Regions from separate parts of the Homo sapiens genome. Here region 2 is linked to region 1. The links come from fine-mapping of genetic effects on gene expression. A gene starts in region 1. The other region holds a variant in brackets. All regions are shown on one strand. Distances are from middle to middle. Region 1 holds the start of TCFL5 (transcription factor like 5). Region 2 overlaps COL9A3 (collagen type IX alpha 3 chain).

Evidence for each region. PIP is the estimated chance that this variant, and not a neighbour inherited with it, causes the effect. A credible set is the group of variants that fine-mapping cannot tell apart.
Region 2: its variant is the best candidate, but not a certain one, in a credible set for the expression of TCFL5 in hippocampus (GTEx, PIP 0.78).

Annotation. Positions count from the first base shown.
Region 1 is chr20:62,856,849-62,865,246 of GRCh38, reverse strand. TCFL5 (transcription factor like 5) reads left to right here and starts at 3,425. Exons shown (of 6, transcript NM_006602.4): 1 at 3,425-4,223; 2 at 4,939-5,122; 3 at 5,721-5,883; 4 at 7,609-7,852. The coding sequence starts at 3,577. LOC105372717 (a long non-coding RNA gene) reads right to left here and starts at 3,812. Exons shown (of 4, transcript XR_936989.4): 1 at 3,706-3,812. RefSeq lists silencers at 3,017-3,116, 3,167-3,356, 3,857-4,006 and an enhancer at 2,978-3,632.
Region 2 is chr20:62,837,797-62,846,055 of GRCh38, reverse strand. It overlaps COL9A3 (collagen type IX alpha 3 chain), which reads right to left. Exons shown (of 32, transcript NM_001853.4): 31 at 7,295-7,372; 32 at 4,897-5,514. The coding sequence ends at 5,324. It overlaps TCFL5 (transcription factor like 5), which reads left to right. Exons shown (of 6, transcript NM_006602.4): 6 at 3,959-5,051. The coding sequence ends at 4,081. It also overlaps the pseudogene DPH3P1. Among named protein-coding and RNA genes, the nearest start is that of TCFL5, 20 kb to the left of the region's middle. The variant T/AGATGT (reference allele first, on the strand shown) is at 4,862.

The DNA.
Region 1 (8,398 bases):
GTCTTGTACTGCAAGTCTGCTAGTGATGGATTATTTTAGCTTTTGTAAGTGCAAAAAAGTCTTTATTTTGCCTTTGTTTTTGAAAAATATCTTTGCTGGGCATAGAACTACAGTTATTCCTCAGTATCCCTGGGGGATTGGTTCCAGTACCTGCCATGGGTACCAAAATCCACGAATGTTCAAGTCCCTTATGCAAAATGTCATAGTGTTTCCATATAACCTATGCACATTCTTCCATACACTTTAAATCATCTGTAGCGGCGAGCGTGATGACTCACACCTGTAATCTCTGTAATTTGGTAGGCTGAGGTGGGAGGATCACTTGAGGCCAGGAGTTCAAGACCAGCCTGGGCAACATAGTAAGATACCATCTCTACAAAAAATAAAATAAAATAAAAATTAGCAGGGCATGGTGGTGTGTGCCTGTGGTCCCAGCTACTCGGCAGAGTCATGCAGGAGGATTGGTTGAGCTCAGGAGGTCGAGGCTGCAGTGAGCTATAACCGTATTATCCTACTCCAGCCTGGGAGACAGAGCGAGACCCTGTTTCTAAAATATATACATATCGAGATTACTTATAATACCTCATGCGATGTACATGCTAAATGAATACTTGTTATACCATATTGTTTAAGGAATAATGACAAGGAAGAGCAGTCTGTGCATTTCGGTGCAAGTAATTTTTTTCTGAGTATTTTTGATCCTTGGTTGAATCCACAGACGCAGAGCCTGTGAATACAGACGCCTGACACTATCAGTCAGCTTCTCCCTTGCCCTCAGCACTTCAAAGGTGTGATTCCACTCTGTTCTGACTTGCATTATTCCTGAAGAAATGTCTGCAATCACTGCAATCTTTTCATTTATTTTTTTAGAAGGAGTCTCTCGCTCTGTCACTAGGCTGGAGGGCAGTGGCGTGATCTTGGCTCACTGCAACCTCCACCTCCCAGGTTCAAGCGGTTCTCGTGCCTCAGCCTCCTGAGTTACCTGGGATTACAGGCCTGTGCCACCACACCCAGCTATTTTTTTTTATTTTTAGTAGAGATGGGATTTCACCATGTTTACCAGGATGGACTCGATCTCCTGACCTTGTGATCCGCCCGCCTCAGCCTCCCAAAGTGCTGGGATTACAGGCGTGAGCCACCGCGCCTGGCCTGTAATCATTCTTATCTTTGTTCCTCTGTACACAATGTCTTGTGTGTGTGTGTGTGTGTGTGTACAGCTGCTTTTAAGATTTTTCACTGATTTAAAGCAATTTGAGGCCAGGCACGGTGGCTTATGCCTGTAATCCCAGCATTCGGGAGACCAAGGTGGGCAGATCACCTGAAGTCAGGAGTTCAAGACCAGCCTGACCAACATGGCAAAATCCCGTCTCTACTAAAAATACAAAAAATTGGCCAGGCATGGTGGCACATGCCTATAATCCCAGCTATTCAGGAGGCTGAGGCAGGAGAATCACTTGAATCCAGGAGGCAGAGGTTGTGCTGAGTCAAGATCGTGCCATTGCACTCCAGCCTGGGAGACAGAGCAAGACTCCATCTCAAAAAATAAAAAAATAAATAAATAAAGCAATTTGCTTTCCATCTTGGTGTAGTTTCCTTCATGTTTCTTGAGTTTGAGGTATGTTAAACTTCTTGGGTCTGTAGGTTTGTAGTTTTAAAAAAACTTTTCAATCATTATTTTTTTTTGTTGTTTTGTTTTTGTTTTTTGAGACAGCGTCTTGCTCTGTCTCCCAGGCTGGAGTGCAGTGGTGCAATCTCTACTCACTGAAACCTCCACCTCCCGGGTTCCAGCGATTCTTCTGCCTCAGCTTCCTGAGTAGCTGGGATTACAGGCACATGCCACCACACCTGGCTAATTTTTTATATTTTTAGTAGACACGAGATTTCATCATGTTGGCCAAGCTGATCTCGAACTCCTGACCTCAAGGGATCTGCCCGCCTCGGCCTCCCAAAGTGCTGGGATTACAGGCGTGAGCCACCTCACCTGGCAATCATTACTTCTTAAAATGTCTTTCTCCCCATCCTTCCACCCCCAGGGGACTTCAAATCACACTGCTTGAAGCGGCCCCACAGCTCACTGATGCTCTGCTCACTCTCTTAGCCTTCCCTCTCTGTTTTACGTTAGACGACTTCTGTTGCCATGTCCTTGAGAGTTTTAAGTCCTTGCTTTCCTCCTTGGTAGTGTTTTCTGAAACCTGATGTTTTGCCCAAAACTGATATATTATTTTCATGTATACATGTGTGAGTTTAGATTTGCATGGCTGAGCTTTCATAGCCCATCGTTGAATCATTGTAATATATTGGTCTGTGTCTAAACTGTGATGAAATGAGCGAAAGATTCAGACCCGGCTTAGAAGACGATGTGCAAGTCACAGGCCTTTAAGTGTCCTAATGCCTAGACAGAGAACAGACAACCACTGAGTGAGATGGGAATGTGGGTGAGAGGTTAAGTACAGGAATTATTTCAAGATTGCAAAAATAAGTCTCTTAAAGACCACATATTGCATAGTTCCCTTAACAGGGAAGGCCCAGCCTAGGCAAACTCCTGGACACAGAAGATTAGTGGCTGCAGGCGGGGGAGGGGCAGTGTGCTGACTGCTACAGGAGACCGGTGGTGAATGCAGCGGTGGAGGCGGGCCCAGCGCTGGGAATGTACCACCACCGTCGCGCTGTGCATTTTTTTTTTTTTTTTGAGATGAAGTCTGGCTCTGTTGCCCAGGCTGGAGTGCAGTGGCAAGATCTCGACTCACTGCAACCTCCGCCTCCCGGGTTCAAGCGATTCTCCTGCCTCAGCCTCCCGAGTAGCTGGGATTACAGGCACGCACTACCACGTCCAGCTAATTTTTGTATTTTTAGTAGAGACGGGGTTTCACCATGTTGGCCAGGCTGGTCTCGATCTCCTGACCTCCTGATCCACCTGCCTCGGCCTCCCAAAGTACTGGGATTACAGGCATGAGCCACAGAACCCGGCCATGCGCTGCGCATTTTACGCGGATGAAGCGGATGGCCTGGGCACTGTGGACTGTGGGTCCAGGGAGCTGTTTTGACAACGTCTTCATTCCTGCCGCTGTAATGGGGCGCACGTGCACGCACGGACGTGGCTTCTCCCCAGGGTGTCACCGCGTAGGTATCACGCTGATTCCAGCGCAGCCGCCCTCGCCGGGCCTCAGCGGGGAGTGGCCGGGCAGCAGGGGCGTGGCTGGGAACCGGGCGTGGCCTGAGCTGGGGGCGTGGCCTAGCTGTGGGGGCGTGGCTGGGCCGTGGGGGCGGGCCCTCCGCGCAAGCATCCGCCGACGTGGGGCGGGGCCGGGCGTGCGGGCGGTTGGGCGGGGGCGGGGCCGGCGGCGGCGGGTAACGGAGGGGGCGGGGCTGGCGCAGGGGTGGGGTTGCCGTTGCGGGGCGGGGCGGCGCAGGCGCTGTGCGCGGCACTCAGCGGTTTTCCCTCCCCCAACGGCGCGCCGGCTGTGGCCGGCGCAGAGTAGTGCTCGGGCCGGGGGTCGCCTCCCGCCTCCCGCCTCCCGCCTCCCGCCGCCCGCCGCCCGCGTCGCCCTCGCCGCCGTTGGGCCGCGCCGCGCCGCCATGTCGGGCCCCGGACCGCGGGAGCCGCCGCCGGAGGCAGGCGCGGCAGGCGGCGAGGCGGCCGTCGAGGGCGCGGGCGGCGGGGACGCGGCGCTGGGCGAGCCGGGGCTGAGCTTCACGACCACCGACCTGAGCCTGGTGGAGATGACGGAGGTGGAGTACACGCAGCTGCAGCACATCCTCTGCTCGCACATGGAGGCGGCGGCTGACGGCGAGCTCGAGACGCGCCTCAACTCGGCGCTGCTGGCGGCGGCGGGCCCGGGCGCAGGCGCGGGCGGCTTCGCGGCGGGCGGTCAGGGGGGCGCGGCGCCCGTGTACCCCGTGCTGTGCCCGTCCGCGCTGGCGGCCGACGCGCCCTGCCTGGGCCACATCGACTTCCAGGAGCTGCGCATGATGCTGCTAAGCGAGGCGGGCGCGGCGGAGAAGACGTCGGGCGGCGGGGACGGAGCGAGGGCCCGGGCCGACGGCGCCGCCAAGGAGGGCGCGGGCGCGGCTGCGGCTGCGGCTGGACCCGACGGCGCGCCCGAGGCCCGGGCCAAGCCGGCCGTGCGCGTCCGCCTGGAGGACCGCTTCAACAGCATCCCCGCCGAGCCGCCGCCCGCGCCGCGCGGCCCCGAGCCCCCCGAGCCGGGCGGGGCGCTCAACAAGTGCGTGCCCGGCGGCCGGGGGCTGGCGGGGCCCGGGTGGAGGCCGAGGCCGGGGCCGGGGCCGGGGCGGAGGCAAAGGGGGCCCTCGCTGTGCACGCCCCCAGCCTGCCCTCCCGGCGGCACAGGGCGCGGACCTCACCGGGTCTGGGGCCGCCCCGAAAGGCTGTGTGCGCTGTGCGGGCCCCGGGGAGCAGGTACTTCCAGAAACTAAACACCCCCTCCCTCAGTGGCCCCGCCTGGAGTGGGGCCGAGCGCGCAGAATTCCTGGGAACCATGTGCTCCGGGTGGCACTCTTGGATGTCAGGGAAGCCTAGGAAGGCCCGACGGGGGTTTGCAGGCTTTGAGCTCTAAAATGAGGCTCCAGCCTGCAGCCGCCCCCTTGGCGACCCTCAGGGATGGCTGTGGAAGGGGCTGCGTCCGCAGTTTTCTGCTCATCCCAGCCTGTAGTTGCCCATCGTGGTCACACTGGAGGATGGCAAAAGTGAGATTGGTGTCAGGATGTGATGAGAGCAGGGAGGTGGCGCAGTTTTGCTTTTCCTCCATAGGAAGAGGAGGACTTCCACAGCAGCGATAGTTGCTAATTGTTGTGTAGAGATTTCCAGGATGAGAGTTGGGTTGCTGTCTGGAAAAACTAGCCAGAGCCATGGGAGTGGGATGGTGGATGCTTGTCTGCCACGTATTGCTGACACTTCTGGGCTTTCTTTTGTCTTGGCAGTTTGGTAACTCTCATTCGACATCCATCTGAACTAATGAATGTTCCTCTTCAGCAACAAAACAAATGTACAGCATTAGTGAAAAATAAAACTGCGGCTACAACTACTGCTTTGCAATTTACATACCCACTGTTTACTACAAATGCTTGCTCTACTAGTGGAAATTCTAATCTTTCACAGACACAGGTAGGGAACATGATTTGTGAAGCTTTGCTCTTTTGTATTAAATGGGTAAATTTTAACTTATTTTGGTTAGGTCCCAAGTACTTTTTTTTCCCTTCAGTGAGCTTAATAACCTTTTAAGCCGGGCGCCAAGGCCGACACCTGTAATCCCAGCACTTTGGGAGGCCGAGGTGGGTGGGTCATTTGAGTTCAGGAGTTCAAGACTAGCCTGGCCAACATGGTGAAACCCCGTACGAAAATTAACCAGGTGGTAGTGGCGGACACCTGTAATCCCAGCTGCTCAGGAGGCTGAGGCGGGAGAATCGCTTGAGCCTGGGAGGTGGAGGTTGTGGTGGGCTGACATCGCGACCCTGCACTCCAGTCTGGGCGACAGAGTGAGAGCCTGTCTCAAAAAAAAAAACAAAAAAACAAAAACAAAAAAATACCTGTGAAAGTTGAGTGTTTATGTGGTATGCGAATATTTTTAAATCTTCAGTGCAACTAAAGTTCTTCAAATTACGTGTTAGTAGTTTTGATGTTTGTTAAGTGCATTTCATTTGTGCAGTAAAGAGGAGAGTAAGCCACATATTGATAAAATTCCTGTTGCTTCATTTTTTTCCAGAGTTCTAGTAACTCATGTTCTGTACTTGAAGCTGCCAAGCACCAGGATATTGGATTGCCTAGAGCATTTTCTTTCTGTTATCAGCAAGAAATTGAATCCACTAAACAGACGTTAGGTAGTAGAAACAAAGTTTTGCCTGAGCAAGTTTGGATTAAAGTGGGAGGTAAGCGATGAAGCAGCAGGTAGTGGGAGCTTTCTTCTGACTGAGCCCTGTGGCTGATGGCATTTTGGCCTTGGGGGGCAGGGGAGACAGATGGTTTGTACACATGTGAAACAGTCTTGGAGGTGTCTGTGTATCTCAGGGGTCTGTCCACCCGCTTCCCTGTCTTTTCGCTTTAAACATTATTCTGATTCTCAAACATAATTAATCTTGGTGTGAGAACGTTGCGTTTGAGGGCTTTTTCTTAACAGTAAAGTGATAGACTTACATAAATTTTCAGTTATTTTCAAGTTACTGAAAGTACTTTATAGTTTTTTATTTTCCTTATGTTATACTCGATGAGTGAGGCAGTCATCTAACATCTGCCGAAAGCCTTTGGATAGGTGGCTGCTAATAGGAGGACCCTATTAGGGCTGCCAGGGAGAGGCTGTAAGGTGATTCGGAAAGTTTGGAAATAAAGTCACTGCTGAAGGCACTGCTGCGCTAACCTGCATAGTCCCTTCCTCCCTGGGAAACACCTGCGTAGCCCCTTCCTCCCTGGGAAACACCTGCGTAGCCCCTTCCTCCCTGGGAAACACCTGCGTAGCCCCTTCCTCCCTGGGAAACACCTGCGTAGCCCCTTCCTCCCTGGGAAACACCTGCGTAGCCCCTTCCTCCCTGGGAAACACCTGCGTAGCCCCTTCCTCCCTGGGAAACACCTGCATAGCCCCTTCCTCCCTGGGAAACACCTGCGTAGCCCCTTCCTCCCTGGGAAACTGATTTGTGAAGTGACCCGAAAAAAGAACACTCCTTACACTTAGCTTTCCAAGAGTTGGTGAAGACAAGATGGGGAGGAAGAGCTACCGCCTTCTCCCATGTCAGTCCTTCCTTTTCCTCCCTATAAAATTTTATGCCAAAGTATATGTTCACATTTGTAAGATACAAAGATGAGTATTAAAGCAGCCTCTGTGCCGACTACTCAGGTTAAGGAATAAAATATCACCAAAACGACCGAATTCCTCTCTCTCCTGCTGAAAGCTTCATCATCCTTCTGAAATGGGTGCTTTGTGTGGCATACGCGTGCACATGAGCACGCCTGCCAGTCACGTGCCTGTGGTCCTTTGATGGATACAGTTCCACTGACGCACACGTGGCATAGCCTGTCACGCAGCAGAAAAGCTCGGACGCTACTTCTTCCTGCTTTGGGGAGGAGAGCCACTTCTGCGGCGAGGGCACACACACACGCTGCTGCAGTTTTGTTCTGAGCATTGCAGTAAAAATACTGTCATATTAGAATAATTGTTTTTTTTTCTTGTTCTTAGAATAATTGTATATAAAGAAAATATTTTTGGGAGGAAATATGTCCAGGTGGTTTGTTGTTGTTGTTTTTTTTTTTCCATTCTGACCTTTAGAAAAAGTAAACAACTTCTTGTTTTCTGTATTCATAGATAACACCTGTTAATTAAAAAGAGGGGCTTTGGATGAGGTCATATTGGTTGCATAGCACTTGGAAAACGTATTTAGTGTGATGATTGATTCTTGTTCAGTTTCGTTGTATAAAATAGGCTTGGGCTTCATGGTCCCTGCTGATGCTGAAAAACTGCATTAGTACATCTCTTTGTGTTTCGGTTCTCTGTGCTGCTTACCCAATAATGTTTATATCTTGGATTGAAAAGGCCAAAACTGTATTCAGCATTAATTGAGATAAGAATACAAAATTAAAAACCACTTTTTTCTTCTTTCGCAAAGAAGCAGCGCTATGCAAACAAGCACTGAAGAGGAATCGGAGTAGAATGCGTCAGTTGGACACAAATGTAGAGCGAAGAGCCCTTGGAGAGATTCAGAATGTGGGCGAAGGTGCCACCGCCACACAAGGCGCTTGGCAGTCCTCGGAGTCCTCACAGGCAAACCTGGGGGAGCAGGCCCAGAGTGGGCCCCAGGGAGGAAGGTCTCAACGTAGGGAGAGGCATAACCGAATGGAAAGAGATAGAAGGTAATACGTGTGACTGCTTGTCAGGCTGACTCATATATGATTACCTTAGTCATACATGGTTATCACAGATGAGTGATCCTTAGCCGTTTCTGCGTTCAGAGGGAATAAAGCAGGTAGGAGCATCGTTAGCTTTCCCAGATGGATCAAGGATCCCCCAGACTATGCCCAGGCTCGCTGGCTCACTAGGAGGACTCCCGGGACTCCGCATGCAGTCACTCTCAGGCTGTGACTTACTATGGAGAAAGGATGCCAGGTGCGATCAGCAAAGGCGCGTGGGGAGAAGGCAGGAGCTGAGGTGCAAGCTTCTAAGAGCGCGCCCTGTGGAGTCAGGCAGGTTGCCCCTCATGCCCCCAGCCATGTGGTCTGAAAACGTGGGTGAGGTGTTGCCAACCAGGAAAGCTCGCTAGAGACCAGGGGCGTGTCACGTAGGCACTGCCCCCATGCATGCAACCACAGTCCAGTCTCCCAGAAGGAAAGCAGTTGTTCAGTGTCAGCCATATCGTTTGCACAGTGTAGGTTCTGGGGGCACTCTTAACTCCCTGAATC
Region 2 (8,259 bases), 19 kb after region 1:
AGTTGATGGAAAGAATCCACAACACGCCTACAGAACAGCAAATCACAAATGGCTGTGTCTCCACGAAGCCAGGAGCTTTGCATTTGAAGTTTCTATCTGGGCTCATTTCCAGCTGTTCAGGGTTCGGATTCCTGAAGGCTTCCTTAGCATTTAACTCATTCTTTGTTGACTGAAGGCACTGGCACTGTTTCTCCACACGCAAACTGATCTTTGTCATAAATCACTTTTATAATGAGAGAGCAGCCTGGACACATTGCCACACCTTCCCCATTCTCCAGCTCTTCCTTGGTGATGGAGAAGTTATCTCCGCATGGGCAGGGACAGAAATATGTCTCCGAGTCCTCGTCATATTGGAAGTCCTCGATTTCCACCTCGTCATGAAATACTGCCATGGTCAGCGGGGGTTGCTGAAGGGGTGACGCCCCAGCAGTCCGAGACCAGCTCCGAGGGTCTAACTTCTCCGGAGCCGGCCCAGGCTCTGACTTTCATTTAATTGTCCTGAAAGGTGAATTCTATCTTGCCAAATAGGCAAGTGTTTTTTATATGTAGGCTTTAGGTGTCAGAATATAGGAAATTATCAAAATGTGGGGTCATTTTAAATTGCATCCTAAAACCTTTTAAAATTTGGGAAGAAGCTGGGCGTCGTAGCTCACGCCTGTAATCCCAGCACTTTGGGAAGCTGAGGTGGGCAGATTACCTGAGGTCAGGAGTTCGAGACCAGCCTGGCCAATACGGTGTGACCCCCGTCTCTACTAAAAATACAAAAATTAGCCGGGCGTGGTGGTACATGCCTGTAATCCCAGCTACTCAGGAGGCTGAGGTGGGAGAATCAGTTGAACCCAGGAGGCAAAGGTTGCAGTGAGCTGAGATCGTGCCATTGCACCCCAGTCTGGGCGACAAGAGTGAAACTCCATATCCAAAAAAAAAAAAAATTGGGAAGAAAATGAGTATATTTATATGCAGGTGTAGATTCTGAGTGCACACAGTAGTTGGAAATGGCAGCTTGCTTGGTTGGAAAGTTGCTTAAAAGTGGATGGGTGGAATGTTCCAGTCACTCCAGGTGGTTCAGAAGTTAAATCCATGGCAGCATGGCGCTTGTGTCCTCCTGGACTTGAATTAAGTAGAAAGTTACTACAACTCAGCAACAAAAAGACTACACAGACTGGGAACCGTGGCTCCCGCCTGTAATCCCAGCACTCTGGGAGGCCGAGGTGGGTGGATCACCTGAGGTCAGGAGTTTGAGACCAGCCTGGCCAACATGGTGAAACCCTGTCTCTACTAAAAAAACAAAAATTAGCCGGGTGTGGTGGCAGGTGCCTGTAATCCCAGCTATTCAGGAGGCTGAGGCAGGAAAATTGCTTGAACCCCAGGAGGCAGAGGTTGCAGGGAGGTGGAGGTTGCAGTGAGCTGAGATCACGCTGTTGCACTCCAGCCTGGGTGACAGAGTGAGACTCGGTCTCAAAAAAAAAAAAACAAAAAACAAACAAAAAAAAACAGAAAAAAAATGTTGAAAGCCAGGCGTGATGGTGTGCACCTGTAGTCCCAGCTACTCGGGAGGCTGAGCCTGCAGTGAGCCGTGGATGTGCCACTGCATTCCAGCCTGAGAGAGCAAGACCCTGTCCAAAAAAAAGACAGCACAACTGAAAAATGGGCAAAGAACTTGAATAGACATTTCTCCAGAGAAGATACACAGATGGCCAATAAGCCCATGAAAGATGCGCCAAGCCGTTAGTCATTAGGGAAATACGAATCAAGACCCAATGAGATACTACTTTTACACATACTAGGATGGCTATTCAAAAACAAAAACAAAAGCAAAATAGCAAGTGTTGGCAAGGATGTGGAGACATCAGAATCCCTGTGCTTTGCCGCTGGGGGTGTGAAATGGTGCAGCCACTGTGGAAGACAGTATGACAGCTCCTCAGAAGGTTCAACATAGAATCACCAGAGAAGCATAAACCCCAAAGAGGTGAAACAGGGACCCAAATGGATGCTTTTCTATGAATATTCATGGCAGCACCTTTCACAGTGGCCAAAAGGTGGAAATGACTCAAGTGTGCTCCAGCAGAGGAATGAGTAAACAAATGTGTTACAAGCACACAACAGAATCTTACTCAGCCATGAAAAGGAATGAAATTCTGACACAGGCTACAGCATGGATGGCCCGAGGTCATTATGCTGAGTGAAATAAGCCAGTCACAACAGGGCACACCCTGCGGGATTCCGTAAACAAGGCACCTAGAGCCGTCAGATTCAGAGAGACAGAAAGTGGACTGGTACGTGCCAGGGGCTGGGGGCCGGAGCGGTGTGGAGTTAGTGTTTAATGGGTACGGAGTTTCTGTTTAGGGTGATGAAAAGGTGGTGGCGGCTGCACAGCACTGTGAGTGGACTTCACGCTGCTCCACTGTACACTTACACATGCTTAAAAGGCAAATTTTATGCTATATTTTAATACCACAATAAAAACTGTATAAACCTGGATTTAATCGTGTAGAATGCTATGTTTTAAAACCAACTTATGGAAATTTTCAAATCTGCACAGAAATAGAAAGTGAACTCCCAGGTCCCTCTAACTCAGTTTCAGGCATCAGCTTGTTTCACCTATCCCCTCGCCCTCCCACCCCCGCTGAATTATTTTAAAACAATTCCAGACATCATTTCATTCATAAATATATCTTCCGAAAGAAAAGGCCTGTTTAAAAACACAACCGCATTATCAGTCTCCTTCCTGAAAGCCTTCACTCCTTATTACCCACCTGAGTCTCCTTCCCGAATCTGAGCAGAATCTCCCGTGAGCCCACAGGTGTCTCTACGGTCAGCTCATTTGAATCAGGATCCAAACATCACATTTGGTTGATAGTTTTTAAATATATCTTAACCCGTAATAGTTCCCCCTTCCTTTCTTCCTCACCGTTCATTTGTTGAAAAGGGAATGATTTGTCCCGTAGACGTTTCCACATTCTGCCCGTGGTGGTTGGCGCCTGTCATCGGGCCGTCGCCTGTGCCCCTCTCTTCCTCTCAGTCTCCTTCGGGAGGTTGAGACTGACCCCACCATTATAATTGAGGCCTTTTGTAAAAGACAGGTGGTGTGACAGGAGCAAGCTCAGCCCACCCCCACCCTGCTGGCAGGGTCTCCCCAAGGACAGAGCCATCTCAGCGAGCAGCACCTCCACCTTGCTGGCCTTGGAACCCTGAGTGTGTGGCAGTGCAGAGGGCAAGGCAGTCGCCCTGGGGTGGGGGTAGATGCCCCTGACTTGTTAATTGTTGAAACTTTTTAAAAATTTATTTTTTTGAGACGGAGTTTCACTCTTGTTGCCCAGACTGGAGTGCAATGGCATGATCTCGGCTCACTGCAACCTCCACCTCCCAGGCTCAAGAGATTGTCCTGCCTCAGCCTCCCAAGTAGCTGGGGTCACAAGATGCTTGCCACCACGCCCAGCTAATTTTTGTATTTTTAGTAGAGATGGGGTTTCACCATGTTAATCAGGCTGGTCCTGAACTCCTGACGTCAGGTGATCCACCCACCTCGGCCTCCCAAAGTGCTGGGATTATAGGCGTGAGCCGCCACGCCCGGCCTGAAACGTTTTAATATATACACTCTACCTTCTCTCACACGCTGGGTTTACAGGTTTATTAGCTAGGGCCCATTAGCGGTTGAAACGTTCATGTCATGTATATTTTACCACAATAAAATCAATACAGTGTGGCCAGACATTCTGAGTATTGGAAAAACAAAAGTACATGTACAGTGTAACTGCTATTTGAAAAAAAAAAAGTTAAAATCTGTTTATTATATAAATCCCCTTGTGAGGTAAGACACAAGTTTGTGAATGACACCTTAAAACAGCGTATTCTAAAGTCATTTACTTAGCTCTTAATTTGAACCTTTTGCACTTTGGAAGACAGCAGTTTTCATGTCAGTTAATTCAGTATGTTAACCGTCACTTCTTCACTGCAGGAATTTGAGAGCGTATTTTGCGGTAAAACTGGCCGAAGGCTAAAGCTGACCAGACCGGACTCCTTGGTGACCTGTCCTGCACAGGGGAGTTTACAGAGCAGCCCCTCGATGGAGATCAAGTGATCGGACTGAACAGGAATCCTCGGGGGGTGAACAGCCATTCCTTCGTGACCTGTGCACGCCTTCTGCAACCCTGGAGCTCTGCTCGGCTAGTCTGACTCGAAAAGGGCGTGACTCAAGCTGACGGGACTCCAGTAGGGACTTTGAGAGCACATTTTGTAAAAATATTTATCTAGACGCAAATGCTTATCCATGAATGTCCTCTTAGACCATTTGGGGATGAAGCCATCTTAATAATTAGTAATAATTAATTAGTAATAATTAGTAAGCATTTTCTCAATGCTCTGATTCCATCATGTTTTCTTAACATGATAACTTAAAAAATTGACATCCTTTGTACTTTCTTTAATCTTAAAAAGTACACGGCTTTTTACTTATTTACCTTTTAAATATGCCCCTTTAGCAATTGGAACAAGTTAAATTGTTAACTAAAAACAGTTTGGAAATTTTATTTCATTCGTTATATCACACCCCCTTGTCATGACTCTGAGTCACGTGCTGCTGTATTGCAACGTGCAGGACCATTTTAAACCTGTGTGCTAAAAATTTTCCAGATACTTGCTTTAAAGCTACTTTTGTCCACAAATGAAATACTGTCACAGTAGACGCTTAAATGCCACGTTTTCATACCAAGAGTCATTCATTACTTCATGTGTCACAAACTGTGGTGTTTGGAATTGGGTTTTTCAATGAGTGGCTTTACTTATCAATCACAACAGGTAATAGCAATAGACGTTAGTGCAATACAAAGTCACCCTCAATAAATACTGTTAATTGGAGATG[T/AGATGT]GAGTTTGTACACAAAACATCAGACTAGACCTTTGTATGGGAGAGAATTTACTGTACATTAAATTCTTTATTTTTTGTTACTCTGTAGCCAGTCATTAATCTGAAGGTTTAATATATCATTTTATTGGGATGAGATCATAGTCTTTACACAAATGCTATGTAAACAAGTTACTGAATATTTTTCACCTCGTGGAGTTGTACACAACCTTTTATATATACACACCCTACCTTCTCTCAAATGCTGGGCTTACAGGTTTATTAGCTAGGGCCTTTTGAGGTATGCTGTCAGGCGACAGCCCGATGAGGGTGCTCGCTGGCAAGGCCCGCGCGTCCAGTCGGCGGCCGAGGGGCAGCCAGGGGCGCTCCCTCTCCTGGACGTCACCCGCCTGCCACACCCCCGCTCCTTCATGACCGTCCACTGTGCTTCGGGCGTCCTTGTCACTTGCTTCCTCACGTTGAATTTTATGAGCTTCGAGAGCCTGATTTCTCCCCGACCCCTCCTAACACGGCTCCTTGGCAGGCTGAGGTGTCGCAGATCCCCGGTGTCCCCTGGGCCCCAATGGCACCTGGAAGCCCAGGATCTCCGGGAGGCCCAGGCTCGCCGGGAGCACCGTCCTGGCCGTCCTTGCTGGTGCCGGGCACGCCTTGGGGTCCTTGGGACAGAGCAGAAAGGTGAGTTCAGCTGCAGCCCGGACTGAAAGCAGGGGGACTTGACATCCAGCTGTGGGCAAGCCCTGCTCTTCCATCTGCTCACTCTTCACTTGGGGAGAGGCCACAGCGGGTGGGGAGGCCGAGGGAACGGCACACAAAGGCTCTCCGCGGGGCTGGCGGTCGGGAGTGTCCGGGGAAGGCCAGGCGCGGCCAGCCCCAGGCAGGGGTGCAGAGCCGTCCTGAGGACACCCGCACTCTGACTTACGCGGGTTTGGTGGGGGCTGTGTGAGTAAGGAGTGGATTTGGAGTGAGCAGGGGGCCCGGAGTGGGGGGTTGTGGGGTGGCTTTGGTGAGTGATGACAGTGGAAACATGGGAGGCCTGGGTGTGAGGGAAGAGGGAGTCAGCCGCCTAAGTGGGGGGTGTCAGAGCCCTTCACTGAGATGAGGTGACAAAGTCCAGAATGGTGCGGGCATGGTGTGGGCATGGTGCGGGCATGGTGCGGCCGGGAGGCTGCTGTCCACCAGCAAGTGCAACACAGATGCTGTTCAGAGCCACAGGCGGAGAGACGTGGCTGGGGCCTGGGACCCCTGTGCGTTTGGACACCAGGTAGAGGCAGAGCTAGGTCAGCAAAGGAGAGTCCAGGAGCATGGGGCACCCAGAGAGCAGTGTGTGTGCGTGGAGGGGAGAAGGGGAGAGGGCTCCAGGGCACCCAGAGAGCAGCGTGCGTGCATGGAGGGGAGGACAGGGCTCCAGGGCACCCAGGGAGAGGTGGGGTGGGTGGAGGAGAGGAGAGGGCTCCAGGGCACCCAGGGAGAGGTGGGGTGGGTGGAGGAGAGGAGAGGGCTCCAGGGCACCCAGGGAGAGGTGGGGTGGGTGGAGGAGAGGAGAGGGCTCCAGGGCATCCAGAGAGCAGTGTGAGTGCGTGGAGGAGAGGAGAGGAGAAGGCTCCAGGGCACCCAGGCAGAGGTGGGAGCGGGTGCCTTCTCGAAGACTGTTCGGGATCCTTCTCATCTGGACACACACATCCTTGGAGTCTAAGGCCTCCTGGTTTTGAGAAGGCACCAGGCTAAGACAGGGGCGGGCAGGGGATGGCCTTTGCCAAGGATCCTGGCGCTGCCTCCCTCCGTGACAAAGCATTTATTTTTGACATTAGAAATGGAAATATTCAACGTATGCACAGGTCAATTAAGAGAAAATTCTGTTATACTTTAACTGAAATAGATACTGAGTAGCTTAAACAGAATCTAACCAAATTGACTTAGCTAAAATAGATCCAGGAGGATCTGCTTACTGATTAAACTTTTTTTTTTTTGAGATGGAGTCTCGCTCTGTCGCCAGGCTGGAAGGCAGTGGCGCCATCTTGGCTCACTGCAACCTGCAACCTCCGCCTCCCGGGTTCAAGCGATTCTCTTGTCTCAGCCTCCCAAGTATCTGGGATTACAGGCGCCCGCCACCACGCCCGGCTCATTTTTGTATTTTTAATACAGATGGGGTTTCACTGTGTTGGCCAGGCTGGTCTCAAACTGCTGACCTCAGGTTATCCGTCTGCCTCAGCCTCCCAAAGTGCTGGGATTACAGGTGTAAGCCACCGCGCCCAGCCCCGATTAAACTTTTATGTATTAAAGTGGTTATTGAGACAATTCCTAATCTTGTCTCTAAGACTGCTTTGCCAAGAGAAGAGGAAAAGAGACCCATTCATAACCCAAGCACGCCCCACATAAAGCTACAAGATGGCGGAAGAGATGTCACCCAGTGAAGCCTTGCTGGCCGTGGACTCGTACCTTGGGGCCCCTGGTCTCCTTCAGGCCCGTCCAGCCCTGCTCCTGCCGCGCCTTTGTCTCCTCTGTCACCCTGGTTTCCTGTCACGAGGTGTGGACACAGACATATGGTTAGAGTATCTGTTGCAGCCACACCACAGCGGTGTCTGATCAACCTTTGTAACAAACAGGGTGCCAGCTTTTCACTGAAGTGGAAACATTTAGAAAAGTACAGATGTCACACGCGTAGGGCTTGACGGGGTCCGACGAGAGGGACCCACCTGTACACAGTCTTAGACTGCAGGACGGCTGCAGGTGGACGACGCACCGCATAGGTGACAGTGGTCCCTTAAGATTATCATACCCAATTTTTACCATTCCTTTCCCGTGTTTGGATGTATTTAACACAGATACCCACCACCAGGTTAGAACCGCCCACAAGACCCAGCCCAGTAACAGGCTGTGCAGGTCTGCAGCCATAAACCCCAGGCTCTGGCACACGGCCCAGGGGTGCAGGAGGCCGGGCTTGCGTAAGTGAACTCAGATGTTCCACAGTGAAACCGCCCAGTGGCACAGCCGTCAGAACCTATGCCTGCTGCTGAGCCGTGCACGGCTGAACCACCTCCCTGACCTCTGGCAGCCAATTTAAATGGGATTTTAGTTTTGTTCAAAATATTTATGCCTATTAAGCAGTTGAGTATTTATTAATATTTTGTAATCATGTTTTAAATGATTTTCCACCCATGGTTCACCTAAGGGCATTTTCACATCCCTCTAATTGCGTCATTCAAATCTTACATCTGTGTTTTGCCTGGCTAATTTTGTATTTTTAGTAGAGGCGGGGTTTCACCATGTTGACCAGGCTGGTCTTGAACTCCTGACTTCCAGTAATCCACCTGCCTCGTCCTCCCAACGTGCTGGGATTACAGGCATGAGCCACCGCACCCGGCCATTCCTCACATTTTTTTTTTCTTTTATGGAGACGGAGT